Regions from separate parts of the Homo sapiens genome. Here regions 1 and 3 are each linked to region 2. The links come from fine-mapping of genetic effects on gene expression. A gene starts in region 2. Each other region holds a variant in brackets. All regions are shown on one strand. Distances are between the middles of the regions. Region 1 overlaps ZP3 (zona pellucida glycoprotein 3). Region 2 holds the start of DTX2 (deltex E3 ubiquitin ligase 2). Region 3 holds the start of ZP3 (zona pellucida glycoprotein 3).

What was found. PIP is the estimated chance that this variant, and not a neighbour inherited with it, causes the effect.
Region 1: its variant is fine-mapped to the expression of DTX2 in whole blood (TOPMed, PIP above 0.99).
Region 3: its variant is fine-mapped to the expression of DTX2 in T cells (TOPMed, PIP above 0.99).

The regions. Positions count from the first base shown.
Region 1 is chr7:76,428,914-76,434,572 of GRCh38, forward strand. It overlaps ZP3 (zona pellucida glycoprotein 3), which reads left to right. Exons shown (of 8, transcript NM_001110354.2): 2 at 602-720; 3 at 4,014-4,117; 4 at 4,557-4,734; 5 at 5,125-5,242. Among named protein-coding and RNA genes, the nearest start is that of ZP3, 6.8 kb to the left of the region's middle. The variant C/T (reference allele first, on the strand shown) is at 3,560.
Region 2 is chr7:76,458,467-76,464,125 of GRCh38, forward strand. It overlaps DTX2 (deltex E3 ubiquitin ligase 2), which reads left to right and starts at 3,243. Exons shown (of 11, transcript NM_001102594.3): 1 at 3,243-3,370; 2 at 5,079-5,243.
Region 3 is chr7:76,422,550-76,428,208 of GRCh38, forward strand. ZP3 (zona pellucida glycoprotein 3) reads left to right here and starts at 2,401. Exons shown (of 8, transcript NM_001110354.2): 1 at 2,401-2,727. The coding sequence starts at 2,416. RefSeq lists a silencer at 1,503-1,797. The variant C/G (reference allele first, on the strand shown) is at 3,023.

The DNA of each region.
Region 1 (5,659 bases), 30 kb before region 2:
TCAGATGATCTGCCCTCCTCAGCCTCCCAAAGTGCTGGGATTACGGGCGTGAGCCACAGCGCCCAGCCAGAAGCTGATAAGTGTTAACAGCTGGGCACTTCCTGACTGCTTCCTGGCGGCTATCTTGGCCCTGGGCCTCTCCTGAAAGAGGAAACTGTATGTACTGGGGGGCATGGAGGGGGAGTGTCAGAAGGGATGTGTCATGTGCCCTGATGCCTCTATTGCTTGGGTGTTACATGGTATCTGCCATGTGGTTGATCCAGTCTGCCTGTGGTGGTGTCAATATGTGGTGTCAGGTAAAGATTCCGAGGTACAAAGACAGTACCTGTCCTGCCTCTTTCCTGACCAGTGGCAGAGCCTGTGTTCTCTTTTGTAGAGATGGGGTCTTGCTATGTTTCCCAGGCCAGTCTCAAACTCCTGGCCTCAAGCAATCCTTGGCCTCCCAAAGTGCTGGGGTTACAGGCATGAGTCACTGCACCTGGCCTTGACCCTGTGGTCTTTCTGTCCCCTTGTGGGCTGCCCTCCCTGAGCACTCAGGTATGGCTTGGGAGTACCCGGGCAGGTGATGGCCGGCAGCATTAACTTCTCACCTTTCCTCCAGGTAACTGACGATGCCCTGGTGTACAGCACCTTCCTGCTCCATGACCCCCGCCCCGTGGGAAACCTGTCCATCGTGAGGACTAACCGCGCAGAGATTCCCATCGAGTGCCGCTACCCCAGGTCGGTGTGGGACTGACTCATGGCCCCTGGTGCAAAAGCCCCTTGGGTGTGGCTGCAGGCAAGTGGGCTGGCTATGGGCTACAGCTTGCAGCATGGCTATTAGAACTACCTACCGAAGCATTTGCAGCTGTGGTTACTGTACTGCGTGGGATTGTGGGGCCTGCTGAGTCTAGTTCGAGCCCCAGAAGAGTATCAGGAGCCCAACTGCAGCTTAGCGGAAGCTTCAGAGCTGCTCAGCCCTGGTGGTGGTACTATGCCAGCCTCGGCCCTTAGGGTTCAGAAATGGCCTTCCAATAGTGCTAGGCTGGGGCCAGGTGCAGTGGCTCATCCTGTAATCCTAGCACTTTGGGAGGCTGACAGGTGGATCGCTTGAGGTCAAGGAGTTCAAGACCAGTCTGGCCTACATGGTGAAACCCCATCTCTACTAAAAACACAGAAATTAGCCGGGTGTCTATAATCCCAGCTACTTGGGAGGCTGAGGCAGGAGAATTGCTTGAACCCAGGAGGCAGAGGCTGCAGTGAGCCGAGATTGCACTGCTGTACTCCATTCTGGGCAACAAAGCGATACTCCATCGCAAAAAATAATAATAAAATAGTGCTAGGCTGCGTTCTAGAATCTGACCTGGGCGGTGGTGGCCTACTCTTCTGTGGTCCTCAAGCCCCTGGCATCAAGCACGTGCCTGTGAACTCAGGCCCTGAAGTGGGAGGAGAAACTATGGCTCCCAAGGACAACACTGGGTCCTGTGCTGGCCTCAGCATGGGGTGCAGGGGACTTTGTCCCTGCCCTTGAACCAGTCTGGGAGTGGGTATAAGATGATGCGGCCAGGTATGGTGGCTCACGCCTGTAATACCAGCCCTTTGGGAGGCCAAGGTGGGCAGCTCACGAGGTAAGGAGTTCAGGACCAGCCTGGCCAACATGGTGAAACCCATCTCTACTAAAAACACAAAAAAATTAGCCGAGTGTGGTAGCGCGTGCCTGTAATCTCAGCTACTCAGGAGGCTGAGGCAGGAGAATCATTTGAACCCAGGATGCAGAGGTTGCAGTGAGCTGAGATGGCACCATTGCACTCCAGCCTGGGCAACAGAGCAAGACTCCATCTCAAAAAGAAAATGCTAGTGTGAAGTGGGTAGGGAGCTGATACCAGTCAGGACATCATGAGGGATGAGCCATGCCCCTGGGAGGGGTCATGGTAGGGGTTATCCTAGAACAGGATCCTGGAGTGGGGGACCTTGAGGCTGAGATGGCCTGGGCAGAGCCATGTGGCCACACACCCAACGGGAGGGTAGTGTGCCCTTAGTAGGTGACATGCAGCCTGGGGGCTGGAGCCCAGGGACTGGGGTAATGAGGGAGCCAGACAGATGGGCTCACCAGCCTCACCACAGGTGCCCCTCCTGGAATGGGTGAGGACTGAATCTCCACCCAGGGTCACCTGGTGGCTGGTGCTGAAGACAAATGGGAACTAGTGAGAACCAGCTGGGAGGCTGGAAAACTGGGATTCAATGAGGCCTGACCCATGGTTGCAGGGACCGTAGAGGCTGACTCGCAGGAGCTAAGAGCAGTTGGAGGAGCTTGGTGCCTATGTGGGTAGGGGAGATGGAGGAGGATAGAGGAGTCAAGGGCAGGCTGCCCAGTCGGCATGAGGGACTGAAGCTGTCCTGTGACCGTGGAAGTCTGACTTCAGTCTCTGGGCCTGACCCCTGAGGATGGTGGCTCACCTGGTCCATTGGCTGTAGGTAGTATTAGAGAGGCTGGTTGTAGGCTGGGATGCTTTAACCTGGCTCCAGATACCTGAGTCTGGTTATCAATAGATGCATCCATCACTTGGAGTAGCTTCTTCCAGCAGATCCTATGGGGTTAGCAGGGTAGGTATCTGCAGATACCCAGACCTGCTTCCATGGACTTCCCAGTCACTGGTGTGGGTCCAGGCTCTCGGTAGCATCTCAAGACCTAAGGGCCTGTCTTTGATCTCTAAAGGATGGCCTTGGCTGGGCATGGTGGCTCACGCCTATAATCCCAGCACTTTGGGAGGCCGAGGCGGGCGGATCATGAGGTCAGGAGATGGAGACCATCCTGGCTAACGTGGTGAAACCCCGTCTCTACTAAAAATACAAAAAATTAGCCAGGCCTAGTGGCGGGTGCCTGTAGTCCCAGCTATTTGGGAGGCTGAGGCAGGAGAATGGCGTGAACCTGGGTGGTGGAGCTTGCAGTGAGCCGAGATCGTGCCACTGTACTCCAGCCTGGGAGACAAAGTGAGACTCCGTCTCAAAAAAAAAAAAAAAAGATGGCCTTAGCTGATTCCCCTCTCAAGCATCCTGTGGAGTACTGTGCAGGGCCTGCTATCAGACCCCAAACCTGAACCTCTAGGGCTAAAGTATGTGTGGTGGCTTTTGGTTTTTTGTTTAAAAAAAAAAAGTCTTACTCTGCCGCCCAGGCTGGAGTGCAGTGGGGTGCCATCATAGTTCACTGCAGCCTTGACCTCCTGGGCTCAAGCAATCCTCCCATCTCAGCCTCCTGAGTAGCTGGTATGTACTACTATGCCCAGCTATCTTTTCTTTTCTTTTCTTTTTTTTTTGAGATGGAGTCTTGCTCTGTTGCCCAGGCTGGAGTGCAGTGGTGTGATCTCAGCTCACTGCAAACTCCACCTCCGAGGTTCACGCCATTCTCCTGCCTCAGCCTCCCAAGTAGCTGGGACTAAAGGCGCCCGCCACCATGCCCGGATAATTTTATTTTTAGTGGAGATGGGGTTTCACCATGTTAGCCAGGATGGTCTCGATCTCCTGACCTCATGATCCGCCCGCCTCGGCCTCTCAAACTGCTGGGATTATAGGCTTGAGCCAC[C/T]GTGCCTGGCCTCTTTTCTTTTTTATAGAGATAGAGTCTTGCTATGTTGTCCAGGCTGCTCTCAAACTCCTAGCCTCAGGCAATCCTCCAGTCTCCACCTCCCAAAGTGCTGGGATTACAGGCATGAGCCACCGCACTCAGGTCCAGGGCTCAAGAGGGAGCAGATCTCAGTCTAGAAACCAAACTCCTAGGTTCAGCTGTATCTGTCTTCAGCGGCCCAGATAGCATCATAGCATCAGTTAGGATGGCTAGGCCACTCACAGGTGCAGAAGTTCAGGAGGGTGCAGGGGCAGCCTCAGGCTCAAGGTGTCTGTTCAGCCATCTCGCACCAGCTACCTGGCTGGGCCATAGCTGAGGACCCTGTAGTGGGGTAGCAGTGAGATACTCCCCATCAGTGGGGGCCCAGGTGGGTGTGACCTGAGGCAGGTGTGCACAGCTGCTGTTCTTCTCTCAGGCAGGGCAATGTGAGCAGCCAGGCCATCCTGCCCACCTGGTTGCCCTTCAGGACCACGGTGTTCTCAGAGGAGAAGCTGACTTTCTCTCTGCGTCTGATGGAGGGTAAGAGAAGAAGGCTGGGTGGGACATCTGTGGAAAGACCTGGGCCATCTCAGACCCCTGCCCTTGGCTGTGTCTTTTTTTTGTTTGTTTGGTTTTGGTTTTGGTTGGTTTTGGTTGGTTTTGGTTGGTTTTGGTTGGTTTTTGAGACAGTCTTGATCTGACCTCCAGGCTGGAGTGCAGTGGCACGATCTCAGCTCACTGCAGTCTCCACCTCCTGGGGTTCAAACGATTCTCCTGCCTCAGCCTCCCGAGTAACTGGGACTACAGGCTTCTGACACCACACCCAGCTAACTTTTCTATTTTTAGTAGAGATGGGGTTTTGCCACGTTGGCTAGGCTGGTCTCGAACTCCTGACCTCAGGTGATCCACCTGCCTCAGCCTCCCAAGGTGCTGGGATTACAGGCATGAGCCACCATGCCCAGCTGACTGTGTCTTTCAGAGAACTGGAACGCTGAGAAGAGGTCCCCCACCTTCCACCTGGGAGATGCAGCCCACCTCCAGGCAGAAATCCACACTGGCAGCCACGTGCCACTGCGGTTGTTTGTGGACCACTGCGTGGCCACACCGACACCAGACCAGAATGCCTCCCCTTATCACACCATCGTGGACTTCCATGGGTGAGCACTGGGCTCCCTGCCTAGAGAACCTTCCTAGCAAAATGACCCTAAAGCCACCTGTTTGGCTTTTTGAGACAGTGTCACTCTGTAACCCAGGCTGGAATACAGAGGCTTGATCTCTGCCCTCTGCAACCTCTGCCTCCCAGGTTTAAGTGATTCTCCTGCCTCAGCCCCCCAAGTAGCTGAGATTACAGGTGCCCATCACCATGCCTGGCTAATTTTTGTATTTTTAGTAGAGACAAGGTTTCACCATGTTTGCCAGGCTAGTCTCGAACTCCTGACCTCAAGTGATCCACCCACCTTGGCCTCCCAAAGTGCTGGGATTATGGGCGTGAGCCACGGTGCCCGGCCCACCTGTCTGGCTTTAATACCGTTCTGTTTTCTTCCAAGCTGTCTTGTCGACGGTCTCACTGATGCCTCTTCTGCATTCAAAGTTCCTCGACCCGGGCCAGATACACTCCAGTTCACAGTGGATGTCTTCCACTTTGCTAATGACTCCAGAAACATGGTAAGAGCTTTAACAGCCTGAAAGAAGGCTGAACTTGCAACCTTCATATCCTACTGAATGGGGTCACTCACTAGCTCCACCCCTAAGCAAATGACTTAGAGCTGTGTCCCAGTAACTCAAACTTACAAGTAAAGCCATGAGCTTTAGCGAGGCCTTCAAGCAGAAGGATGAACAATATGAAGCCTTAAGAGGTAGAGGCCGGGCACGGTGGCTCATGCTTGTAATCCCAATACTTTGGGAGGCCGAGGGGGGTGGATCACTTGAGGTCAGGAGTTCAAGACCAGCCTGGCCAACATAGTAAAACCCCGACTCTACTAAATATACAAAAAAAATTAGCTGAGTGTGGTGGTTGGGTACCTGTAATCCCAGCTACCTGGGAGGCTGAAGCAGGAGAATAGCTTGAACCTGGGAGGCAGA
Region 2 (5,659 bases):
TCACCATGTTGGCCAGACTGGTCTTGAACTCCTGATCTCAGGTGATCCACCTGCCTCCGCCTCCCAAAGTGCTGGGATTATAGGCATGAGCCGCCTTGCCTGGCTCAAAGTTCCTTTTTGGTTTAACAATAGATCTAGGCCACTGTGAGTCTTCCTCATTCCTTCTAGGGCTACCTAGTGTTCCGGGGTTATTTAACCAGCCCCCTCCTACCAGGCAGTTCTTTTGTCTCTGGCCCTTTGCTACGTATATTAGTTTAAAGTTCACTTTGCAAGTGGCCAAGCCTGTTTCCCTCATTTCCAGGTTCCCAGGGGGCAGACATCCTGCTGCAATTTCAGAAGTCAGCACACTCTTCTCTCTCCTGTCTAAAATACAAAAGTCCATGCCCCCCACTCTCCCTCTTGATACTGTCCTATTTTACTTCTTTTCACAACCAGAACTCTTTATTTTTCCCAAATAAAAATAGTCCGTCTTTTCAGATTTTAAAAATGGAACTCTGGCCGGATGCGGTGGCCCTCACCTGTAATCCCAGCACTTTGGAAGGCTGCAGTGGGCAGATTACCTGAGGTCAGGAGTTTGAGATCAGCCTGGCTGACATGGTGAAACTCTGTCTCTACTAAAAATACAAAAATTAGCCCGGATGCGGTGGCTCACATCTGTAATCCCAGTACTTTGGGAGACCGAGGTGGGCAGATCACGAGGTCAGGAGTTCAAGACCAGCCTGGCCAACATGGTGAAACCCTGTCTCTACTAAAATACAAAAATTAGCTGGGCATGGTGGCATCCGCCTGTAATCACAGTTACTCGGCAGGCTGAGGAAGAATTGCTTGAACCTGGGAGGCGGAGTTTGCAGTGAGCTGAGATTGTGCCATTGCACTCCAGCCTGGGCGACAGAGCAAGACTCCGTCTCAAAAATATATATATATACAAAAATTAGCTGAGTGTGGTGGTGCATGCCTGTAATCCCAGCTACTCGGGAGGTGAGGCAGGAGAATCACTTGAACCTGGGAGGCGGAGGTTGCAGTGAGCCGAGATTGTGCCATTTCACTCCAGCCTGGACAACAAGAGCAAAACTCGTCTCAAAAAAAAAAAAAAGGAAAATAAAAATCCCTGATAAAGGATCAATGACCTTAGGATAATGTCATTCCAGGTAAGTATCTTTAACTGGGTACTTGGTCCTCCAAGATTCAGAGGACCTTGATCCCCCTGAAACTGTATACATAATATTCAACATACATAGTATGTGCACACATGTGCAAACACTCACATTATCTAAAATTCATCATAATCTTACCCCGGCTTCTCCCCACACTCCTCAGATCCTGCTATAGCCTAGTGCATTTTCTCCTTCCTCACTCCCTTCCCTCCATGTGTCCTCTGCCCTGGCCACCAGGAACTTTGTGCTGCCTCCGGAGTGCATGAGGCACTTTCACATCTCTCTTGCTTTACAAGAGCTTCCCTATGCTCCAACTGGCAAATTTCTCTATGGACTGAAAAACCCACATAGCCTTTATCTGTCTTGTGATGTCTTCTCCCCACCCTCAAGTTAGGCATACCCTTCTATGCCCTCCTTTATCCAAACATTTTCCCCACTATATCGTAATTGTGTGTTTAAGTGCCGGACTTTCCAACTAGATACAAAGCTTTCCCAGGAAAGAAATCCTTTTCTTTTCTTCTTTCTTTCTTTTCTTTTCTTTTCTTTCTTTTTTTTTTTTTTTTTTTTGAGACAGATTCCCACTGTGTCGTCCAGGCTGGAGTGCAGTGGCACAATCTTGGCTCAGTGCAACCTCCACCTCCAGGGTTCAAGTGATTCTCTTGCCTCAGTCTTCCAAGTAGCTGGGATTACAGGCACGCGCCACCACACCCAGTTAATTATTATTATTATTATTATTTTTTTTTTTTTTTGAGACGGAGTCTCGCTCTGTCACCCAGGCTGGAGTGCAGTGGCACAATCTCGGCTCACTGCAAGCTCCGCCTCCCGGGTTCACGCCATTCTCCTGCCTCAGCCTCCCGAGTAGCTGGGACTACAGGAGCCCACCACTACGCCCGCTTAATTTTTTTTTTTTTTTGTATTTTTAGTAGAGACGGGGTTTCACCGTGGTCTCGATCTCCTGCCCTCGTGATCCGCCCGCCTCGGCCTCCCAGAGTGCTGGGATTACAGGCGTGAGCCACTGCGCCCGGCCTCCACACCCAGTTAATTTTTGTATTTTTAGTAGAGACGGGGTTTCACCATGTTGGCCAGGATGGTCTCAATCTCTTGACCTTGTGATCTGGCTGCCTCGGCCTCCCAAAGTGCTGGGATTACAGGCGTGAGCCACCGCTCCCGGCGAGAAACCTTTTCTTTTTCTTTTTTCTTCTTCTTCGTCTTTTTTTTTTTTTCTTTTGAGAGGGATTCCTGTTCCGTCGCCCAGGCTGGAGTGCAATGGCGCGATCTTGGCTCACTACAGCCTCTGCCTCCCGGGTTCAAGCGATTCTCTTGCCTCAGCCTCCCGAGTAGCTGGGATTACAGGCACGAGCCACCACGCCCGGCTAGTTTTTTTTGGTATTTTTAGTAGAGACGGGGTTTCGCCATGATGGCCAGGCTGGTCTGGAACTCCCGACCTCAGGTGATCCGCCCACCTCTGCCTCTCAAAGTGCAGGGATTACAGGCATGAGCCACTGCGCCCAGCCAAGAAACCATTTCTGATTCACCTATTCACTCCCGCACTCCCACTACACAGTAGCTAAATAAATAAATAAATATTAAAAATAAATAGGAAAGAAAGAGAGAAAAAAAGAAAAGAAAAAGACAAAAATTTAAATTTAAAAAGGTTGTGCTCGATGGCTCACACTTGCAACCCCAGTGCTTTGGGAGGCTGAATGAAGCAAGAGGATCGCTTGAGGCCAGGAGTTTGAGATCGGCCTGAGCAACGTTGCAGCATTGCAAAACCCCCATCTGTACAAAAAAGAAAAATAAAATTAATTTTAAAAACAAAAAAAGAGAAACAGTAGCACATGTATGTACTGGCACCATGTATGTACTAGTAAAAACTAGTTAAAATTAAGTCAGTAATTAATGAAGGAATAAGTCAATGAGTGAGCAGGCGAAGGAAGAAAACATAGACCGGAGCAGGTGCGCCTTGGGTTGAGCCCTTCCCCGCTGAGCCCCGCCTTCTGCCCGCCCCTGGGCCCTACCGGGACTACATTTCCCAGAAGGCCGCACGCCCCGGGCATGCGCAGCGGCTCGCTCGGAAGCTGCGACGCCGAGTTTCACTCTGGCTGCCTTCTCCTGAGAGTCGGAGCCACAGCCAGAGCCCTGCCCAGGCCGAGCCGGAGCTGCAGCCCGAGCGCGGTGGTGCCCTCAGCCCCGTCCTCTTGTCCTCCTCAGCCTCGGTGAGAGGGCGGGAAGGCCACCTGCGCGTCGCTAGGGCTGCGGTCCCAGGGGCGCGGGGTGGCGCGGGGAGCCGGAGCCTAGCTGGGACCGGAAGGGGGCGGGCGTGGGTGTGAGGGGGACCGACGGCCGGGGCGGCGGGGACACCCGGGGGTCCCGGGAGATCGGGGGTGTCGGGGGGATCGGTCTCCGGGATCAAGGTCCTGAGGGCGAGAGTTGGGGGACTTGGGAGGCGCCGGCAGCTTTGGACGGGACAGGGTGCCGGGTGCGAAAGGGGACGTTCGGATGAAGGCTGAGGGGCTCGCAGGCGGAGGGGCGCGGTTCCGGGTCGCTCGGAAGGCGCGCACCCCTTCCCAAAGTACCCAGAGGAGGGGGTGACGAGATTGCCACCGGCTCCCTGACGAGGGGTTGGTCCTGCTGGGGTCTACCCCCAGGTGAAGGGACTCACTGGGCCGGGGGTTGTACTTTGGAGGAGTTTGCTTCCTAACTCTGCTTCCCTGCTTTCCTGTGGGGGGTCTTCCCAGGAGTTCCTGGGGCCCTGGGTCACTTTTTGGGGTGCGTAAGGGGTGCCGAAAAAGATTTAGAACTCGGTTCCCTTTTCTGGAGCTGCGCTTTCATCGCGACTGTCTCAGCCAGCTGCCCTCCTCCTCCAAGCTGGCTCCACTTCTCTAAGCGCCAACAGCGATGGAAATAAATAGCATGTGTACAGACGCCTGGACCCTTGAGAAACTCAGAATATTTCTGCATGCCTTCCTAGCTCCTCTAGCGCTCTAGAAGGTAGACTTTCTGGTAGCCACCATCCGGGCTTAAGCCATCCGGATAGCAAGCCCTCTGATTCGGTTGCTCTGTGACCTTAAATATTTACCCTCTCTGGTGTGTTGATTTCCTGGATGCTTAGCTGCCAGACTGGCTTATGAAGTCCTTTTAGAGTTTTCTGTAAAAGGGCTCAGGCCAGGCACGGTGGCTCATGCCTGTAATCCCAGCCCTTTGGGAGGCCGAGGTGGAAGGATCATTTGAGTCCAGGAATTTGAGACAAGCCTGGGAAACGAAGAGGATTCCTGAGATCACTGTCTCTATAAAAAATCAGATGGGCGTGTTGGTGGGTGCCTGTAGTCCCAGCTACTTGGGAGGCTGAGGCAGGAGGATCGCTTGAGCCCAGGAGTTGGAGGCTGCAGTGAGCTGTGATCACACCACTGCACTGCAGCATGGGCGACAGAGGGAGACCCCGTCTCAAAAAACAAAAAACAAACAAACTAAAAAAACGAACTTTTTTTTTTTTTTAAGAAAAGGGCTCAGAGCCAGGCGTGGTGACTCGAGCCTATAATCCCAGCTACTCGGGAAGCTGAGGCAGGAGAGTAGCTTGAACCTGGGAGGCGGAGGCTGCAGTGAGCCGAGATCACGCCACTGCACTCCAGCTTGGGTGACAGAGCAAGACTCCGTCTCCAAAAACTAATAATAATAAAAAATTTTAAAAAGAGCTCAGGGTTTTTTTGTTTGTTTGCTTTTTGTTGTTTCTTCAACCATCTCCTTGATTGTTAAGTGGGTGGAGGAAGACTGTTGTACCTCCTGCTCCACCCAGGCTATTGGAAAATAAATCTGGTGATTTTCAGTCCCCAGGCACAGCACACGGATCCAACATCTGTACCTTTGTTTTTACTAACTGCTGTTTCTTAATTTAAAACCTGATCATCTTCTTCCTCGTTGGCAAAGGTGCCTTGGAATTTGTGTCGCTGAGTCAGCAAGCCTTTCAGATTTGCCCGGTTTTTGTTGTTTGTGGTTTGTATCAAGATGGGAACTCAAACAAGTCATTCCTCCTAAGGAGCTGGTGTCTTCATCCAGAAGGGACAGTTTGTGCCAGCTCTCCAGAGAGAAAAGGTGAGAGCCATGGGGACTTGACCTTGCTGCCTTCTCTATCTGGTGCAGAGAAGGTGGGGATTGGGGAGGGTGGAATTTGAGGTCTGCAGGATAAACGTGTGCCCTGGGAGTTGACTGTTGATTGCCACCTGTCTCAAATAAATTGCAGTGGCGTCTTGCCACTGCTTCTCCTGTTTAACTAACTAGTCTTAGAAGATGCTTTCCACTTTAAGACATGCTTTATGGGATAGAAGACACAAGTCACGATTTCTGCATTTGAAGTGGCAGTTTTCATTTCTTTTGTTGCATAAACCCTTACTGGGTGCCAGATAAGATCTCTGTCTTTTGGGAGTGCATTGTTTGGTGGAAAAGACAAAGCAGAGTCAGTGACAAGGTGTTGTCAGTGTGATATATACTGAGCTGGGAGAAATCACAAG
Region 3 (5,659 bases), 36 kb before region 2:
GCGCCTGTAATCCCAGCTACTCAGGAGGCTGAGGGAGGAGAATTGCTTGAATCCAGGAGGAGGAGGTTGCAGTGAGCTGAGATCGCGCCACTGCACTCCAGCCTGGGCGACAGAGCAAGATTCCGTCTCAAAAAAAAAAAAAAGAAAGAAAAGAAATTAACATGAGGGCCAGGCACAGTGGCTCACACCTGTAATCCCAGCACTTTGGGAGGCCGAGGAGGGAGAATCACTTGAGGTCCAGAGTTCGAGACCAGCCTGGCCAACATGGTGAAACCCCGTCTTTACTAAAAATACAAAAGTTAGCCGGGCATGGTGACGGGTGCCTGTAATCCCAGCTACTCGGGAGGCTGAGGTGGAGAATCACTTGAACCCAGGAGGCGGAGGTTGCAGTGAGTCGAGATAGCACCACTGCACTCCAGCCTGGGCGACAGAATGAGATCCTGTCTCAAAAGAAAGAAAGAGAGAGAGAGAGAGAGAGAAAGAAAGAAAGAAAGAAAGAAAGAAAGAAAGAAAGAAAGAAAGAAAGAAAGAAAGAAAAGAAATTGACAGGAGGCTAAACGAGTTTTCCTAGACAAAGCTTCATTGGAGCTTATGCCCAGACATAAAGGAGGCAGCATGAGAGAGAGAGGGAGAGAGAGGGAAAGAGAGAGGGAGAGAGAGGGAAAGAGAGAGAGAGAGGGAAAGAGAGAGAGAGAGGGAAAGATATAGAGATTTTTCTATCTGACTCTCCAAAAAGAGCCAGGAGGGCTTTTTTATTAGGCAAAGCATGGGAATTTACATCAGGGATAGGGCATGCCGGCTGTGCTGGGCAAAGCACGTGAAGGTATGCAGGTTGGCATTATCTGGTTGCCATGGTTATCTTGAGTTATGGGCCACCTGGTAGTCTGGCTGGTGGCAACAAGGCTGTCAATCAGTTCAGCATTCCTTCCTGAGGTGGGACACTCCACAACCTTGGTTTGATATTTGAATCTCCTAAGGTCAGTTCCTGGGATTCTCTTAAGTAATAGGCATGTTTCCACATGATGATGTCAGTGAAATCGTGGTATGGGTCTGGTGATCACTGGGAATGCAGGAAAGAATGCAGTGGTTGGGCCAGGTGTGGTGGCTCATGTCTGTAATCCCAGCACTTTGGGAGACTGAGGTGGGCGGATCCCTTGTGGTGAGGAGCTGGGCATGGTGGAACAAGCCTGTAATCCCAGTTACTCGGGAGAGTAAGGCAGAAGAATTGCTTGAACCTGGGAGGCGGAGGCTGCAGTGAGCTGAGATTGCACCACTACACTCCAGCCTGGGCAACAGAGTGAGATTGTCTCAAAAAAAAAAAAGAATGCCCTGGTCGGGGTGAGCTGAAGCCAAGCCCCGCTTCTGCTGTGTCTCAGTATGAACTCCGGGGGATTCACCCAGGAATGAAGAACGCAGGGCCCCTTCTCCACCTCTCTTCACACAGCTGCCTCTGCCTGAACTGACCTACCCCCCGGCCTCCCATAAAATAAGGCAGAGACCCATGAAATTCCTCCTGTCTCCTAATTGATACCGCCTCCTTTTTCTCACACTTGGAATGAGCTCCTTATGTCTCAGATCTAATCCCCCTGACTCTTCAATCAAGGGCTTTCTCCTGTGTCCCCCACAGACCTGGGACAGCTCCCTTGCCGGGCTGCGAGCTTCCTAAGGGCAGGGCCAGCAGGGGATCGGAGGGAAGCTGTGATACATTGTGGTGCACCAGGCAGGCAGCACACTCTTTGCAAACTTTTACATGAATACACATGGGGATTTACAAGCTAAAAACTTTCAAGTGGGCTGGGGCGGGCGCGGTGGCTCACACCTGTCATCCCAGCACTTTGGGAGGCTGAGGCAGGAGGATCACTGGAGGTCAGGACTTCAAGACCAGCCTGCCCAACATAGTGAAACCCTGTCTCTACCAAAAATACAAAAATTAGCCAGGCGCGGTGGCGCATGCCTTCCTGTAATCCCAGCTATTTGGGAGTCTGAGGCAGGAGAATCACTTGAACCTGGCTGAGAAGTGGAGGATGCAGTGAAACGAGATCATACCACTGCACTCCAGCCTGGACAACAGAGTGAGACTCTGTCTCAAAACAAAACAAAACACAACAAAAACAAACAAACCACAAACACACACACACACAGCAAAAAAAAACTTTAATGTGGATACACGTGGGGGATTTCCAAGCTAAAAACCAAATTCTGCTGTGGTCATGCTGGGGTGAAGGCTGAGAGTTTGCAGTTCTAACAAGCTCCCAGGTGTTACTGATGCTTCTGGATGGAGACCACTTTATGCAACAAGGGCCCAGCTGGCTAGGGAAGGGAGGCAGCTGAGAAGCTGAGAGCCCAGGTGGCAGCAGCCAGCATCCCACGGGTATAAGATGGCCAGAGGCGGCTGCCTGCTGCTCTGCAGGTACCATGGAGCTGAGCTATAGGCTCTTCATCTGCCTCCTGCTCTGGGGTAGTACTGAGCTGTGCTACCCCCAACCCCTCTGGCTCTTGCAGGGTGGAGCCAGCCATCCTGAGACGTCCGTACAGCCCGTACTGGTGGAGTGTCAGGAGGCCACTCTGATGGTCATGGTCAGCAAAGACCTTTTTGGCACCGGGAAGCTCATCAGGGCTGCTGACCTCACCTTGGGCCCAGAGGCCTGTGAGCCTCTGGTCTCCATGGACACAGAAGATGTGGTCAGGTTTGAGGTTGGACTCCACGAGTGTGGCAACAGCATGCAGGTAAGAGAGGCTGGGGGCCCTGGCTTTGGTGGGAGGATGTTCGAGGCAGCCGGGTATGGGGACTGTGGCCACCATCGGTGGGAGGTGGGGTTGGGTGGATCCCTCTCACTTGTAGGTGGGGAGGTGGCCCAGTTGAGGCCTGAAGCTGGCACTGAGGTCACCGGACCCAGGGCAGCTCCTGCCTCTGATGCCCGACATTGGGTCGATGGGGTGGAGCCAGAGGTGGCCGTGCACTTCAGGCTGGCCCAAGCCACGCCACTCTCTCTCAGGTGGGTTTGTGACACACACAGGCCTG[C/G]GTGATAGGATAGCCCTGTGGGTAGCCTAAGGGGCTGTTTCTAAGGCTGGGGGCATTAGGAACTCATCCTGAAGAGACCCAAAGTATACATTATCTTAAAAACAACAAGTGGGCCGGGTGCAGTGGCTCATGCCTGTAGTCCCAGCACTATGGGAGGCCAAGACTGGAGGATCACTTGAGGCCAGGAGTTTGAGGCCAGCCTGGGCAACATAGTGAGACCCCATCTCTTAAGCCTTTAAAAAAACTAACTGGGGCCTGGTGTGGTGGCTCACGCCTGTAATTCCAGCACTTTGGGAGGCTGAGGAGTTTGAGACCAGCCTGGCCAACATGGTGAAACCCCATCTCTACTAATAATACAAAAATTAGCCAGGCATGGTGGTGCGTGTCTGTAATCCCAGCTACTCAGGAGGCTGAGGCAGGAGAATCGCTTGAACCCAGGAGGCAAAGGTTGCAGTGAGCTGAGATTGTGCCACTGCACTCCAGCCTAGGCAACAGAGCGAGACTCTGGCTCAAAAAAAAAAAAAAAATTCCACATAGATAAGTGGTATGGGGGCGGGGGCATCATAACCTTGGTGTTAAAGACCTTAAAAGCATCAGTGGGTCCCTGGGGGCAGCTCCAAGGGGGAGAGGCTTAACCTGTGGTACATGCAGGAAAAGACCAAGAAATCCAGGCCAGACCTCCCTTTCCCTAGCCAGTGGGGAAAGAGGCTGCAAGGAGAGGCCTTACGGCAGGGCAGGGCTGGGCACACAGCTCCCCAGCTAAACCCTGATCCCTGGACCAAGTTCCTGTGGTCCCATGGAGGGCCTGTCCTCTCCCGCCTCAGGGGAACCTGGCTCCTCCTCACCTGGGCCTAGACCCAGTAGCTTGCCTGGGATGGGGGCAAGTCCAGCCCCTGGAGCCCTCCGGCCAGAGCTCTGGTCTTAACTGTGGTCTCCTGGGCTCTCTTTGAGGACTCGAGGCCCTTGTTTTCCTGGGGAGGGAGGCCAGAGAGCTGCAGGAGTTACTTGAGGAATTATTCCAGTTTAGAGGCTCACAAACATGTCTTAGATTTACTTGGGGAGCCAGGTGCCTGGCTCCCCCCCCTTCTGTGAAATGGGCTTTAATAGGTTAGAAGCTGATAAGTGGTATTTTTTTGTTGTTGTTTTTGTTTTTTGAGACAGTTTTGCTCTTATTGCCCAGGCTGGAGTGCAATGGCGCCTATAATCCCAGCACTTTGGGAGGCTGAGATGGGAGGATCACTTGGGCCCGGGAGTTTAAGGCCACCCTGGGCAACATAATGAGACCCCCTTCTCTACCAAACACCACACACACACACACACACACACACACACACACAATAGGGTGTGGTGGCGCCTGCCTTTAGTCTCAGCTACTTGGGAGGCTGAAGTGGGAGGATTGCTTAAACCCATGATTTGGAGGCTGCAGTGAGCTACGATTGTGCCACTGCATTCCAGCCTGGAAGGCAGAGCAAGACCCTCTTTTATTAACCCCACCTGTGGAGCTTCTAAAAATCCTGATGTCCAGGCTGCTAAAATAGAAAGGATGTGGGACCAGCTGTGGGTAATAAGGATCTCAGGTGACTCCAATGAGGAGCAAAGCCTGCAAACTCCTTCCTCTGGTGTGGTGTTTCCCAGTTTTGCCCGGTGAGAATCACCTGCGGCTGGCCGTGCGCAGTGGCTCACGCCTGTAATCCCAGCACTTTGGGAGGCCGAGGCGGGTGAATCACGAGGTCAGGAGTTCAAGACCAGCCTGGCCACGATGGTGAAACCTCATCTCTACTAAAAATACAAAGAAGTTAGCCGGGTGTGGTGGCGGGCACCTGTAATCCCAGCTACTCAGGAGTCTGAGGCAGAGAATTGCTTGAACCCGGGAGGCGTAGGTTGCAGTGAGTTGAGATCGTGCCACTGCACTCCAGCCTGGGCAACAGAGTGAGACTCCGTCTCAAAAAAAAAAAAAAAAAAAATACAGCCATGGCCAGTTTCCCAGGTATACAACCTGTGCAGTTCTGTGGGGCCCAGTGCTTAATGGAATGCCCTCTTGCCCTGAAATGGTAATAACTTTTGAATAAGGGGCCCCACGAGCTATGCTGGTTCTGTCTGTGCTGGGGCACTTGCTAATAAGGTCTAGGACTATTCCCTGAAGATCGAGTTTGGTCAGGGCCAGGCAGCCACCTGAGCTCTTGGGCAACTTCGACCTCCTAGGCTCAAGCCATCCTCCTGCCTCAGCCTCCTGAATAGCTGGGATGGACTACAGGCACATGCCACCGTGCCCAGCCAAGTTATGTTTTTGTAGAGATGGGGTCTAGCTCTATTGCCCAGGCTGGTCGTGACTTCCTGGCCTCAAGCAATCCTCTTCCCTCCCAAAGTGCTGGGATTACAGGCATGAGCCACTGCACCCAGCCCTCAAGTAGTTTTTAAATAAGCTCCCTGAGATGAGAGGTGGGGATAGTGAGCTTAGAATAGGTGGTTGGGGGTTGAGTCATGGTGGCTCACACCTGTAATCCAGCACTTTGGGAGGCTGAGGCAGGTGGATCACCTGAGGCCAGGAGTTCGAGACCAGCCTGGCTAACATGGCGAAACCCTGTCTCTATTTAAAAAAAAAAAAAAAAGGCACGGTGGCACGTGCCTGTAATTCCA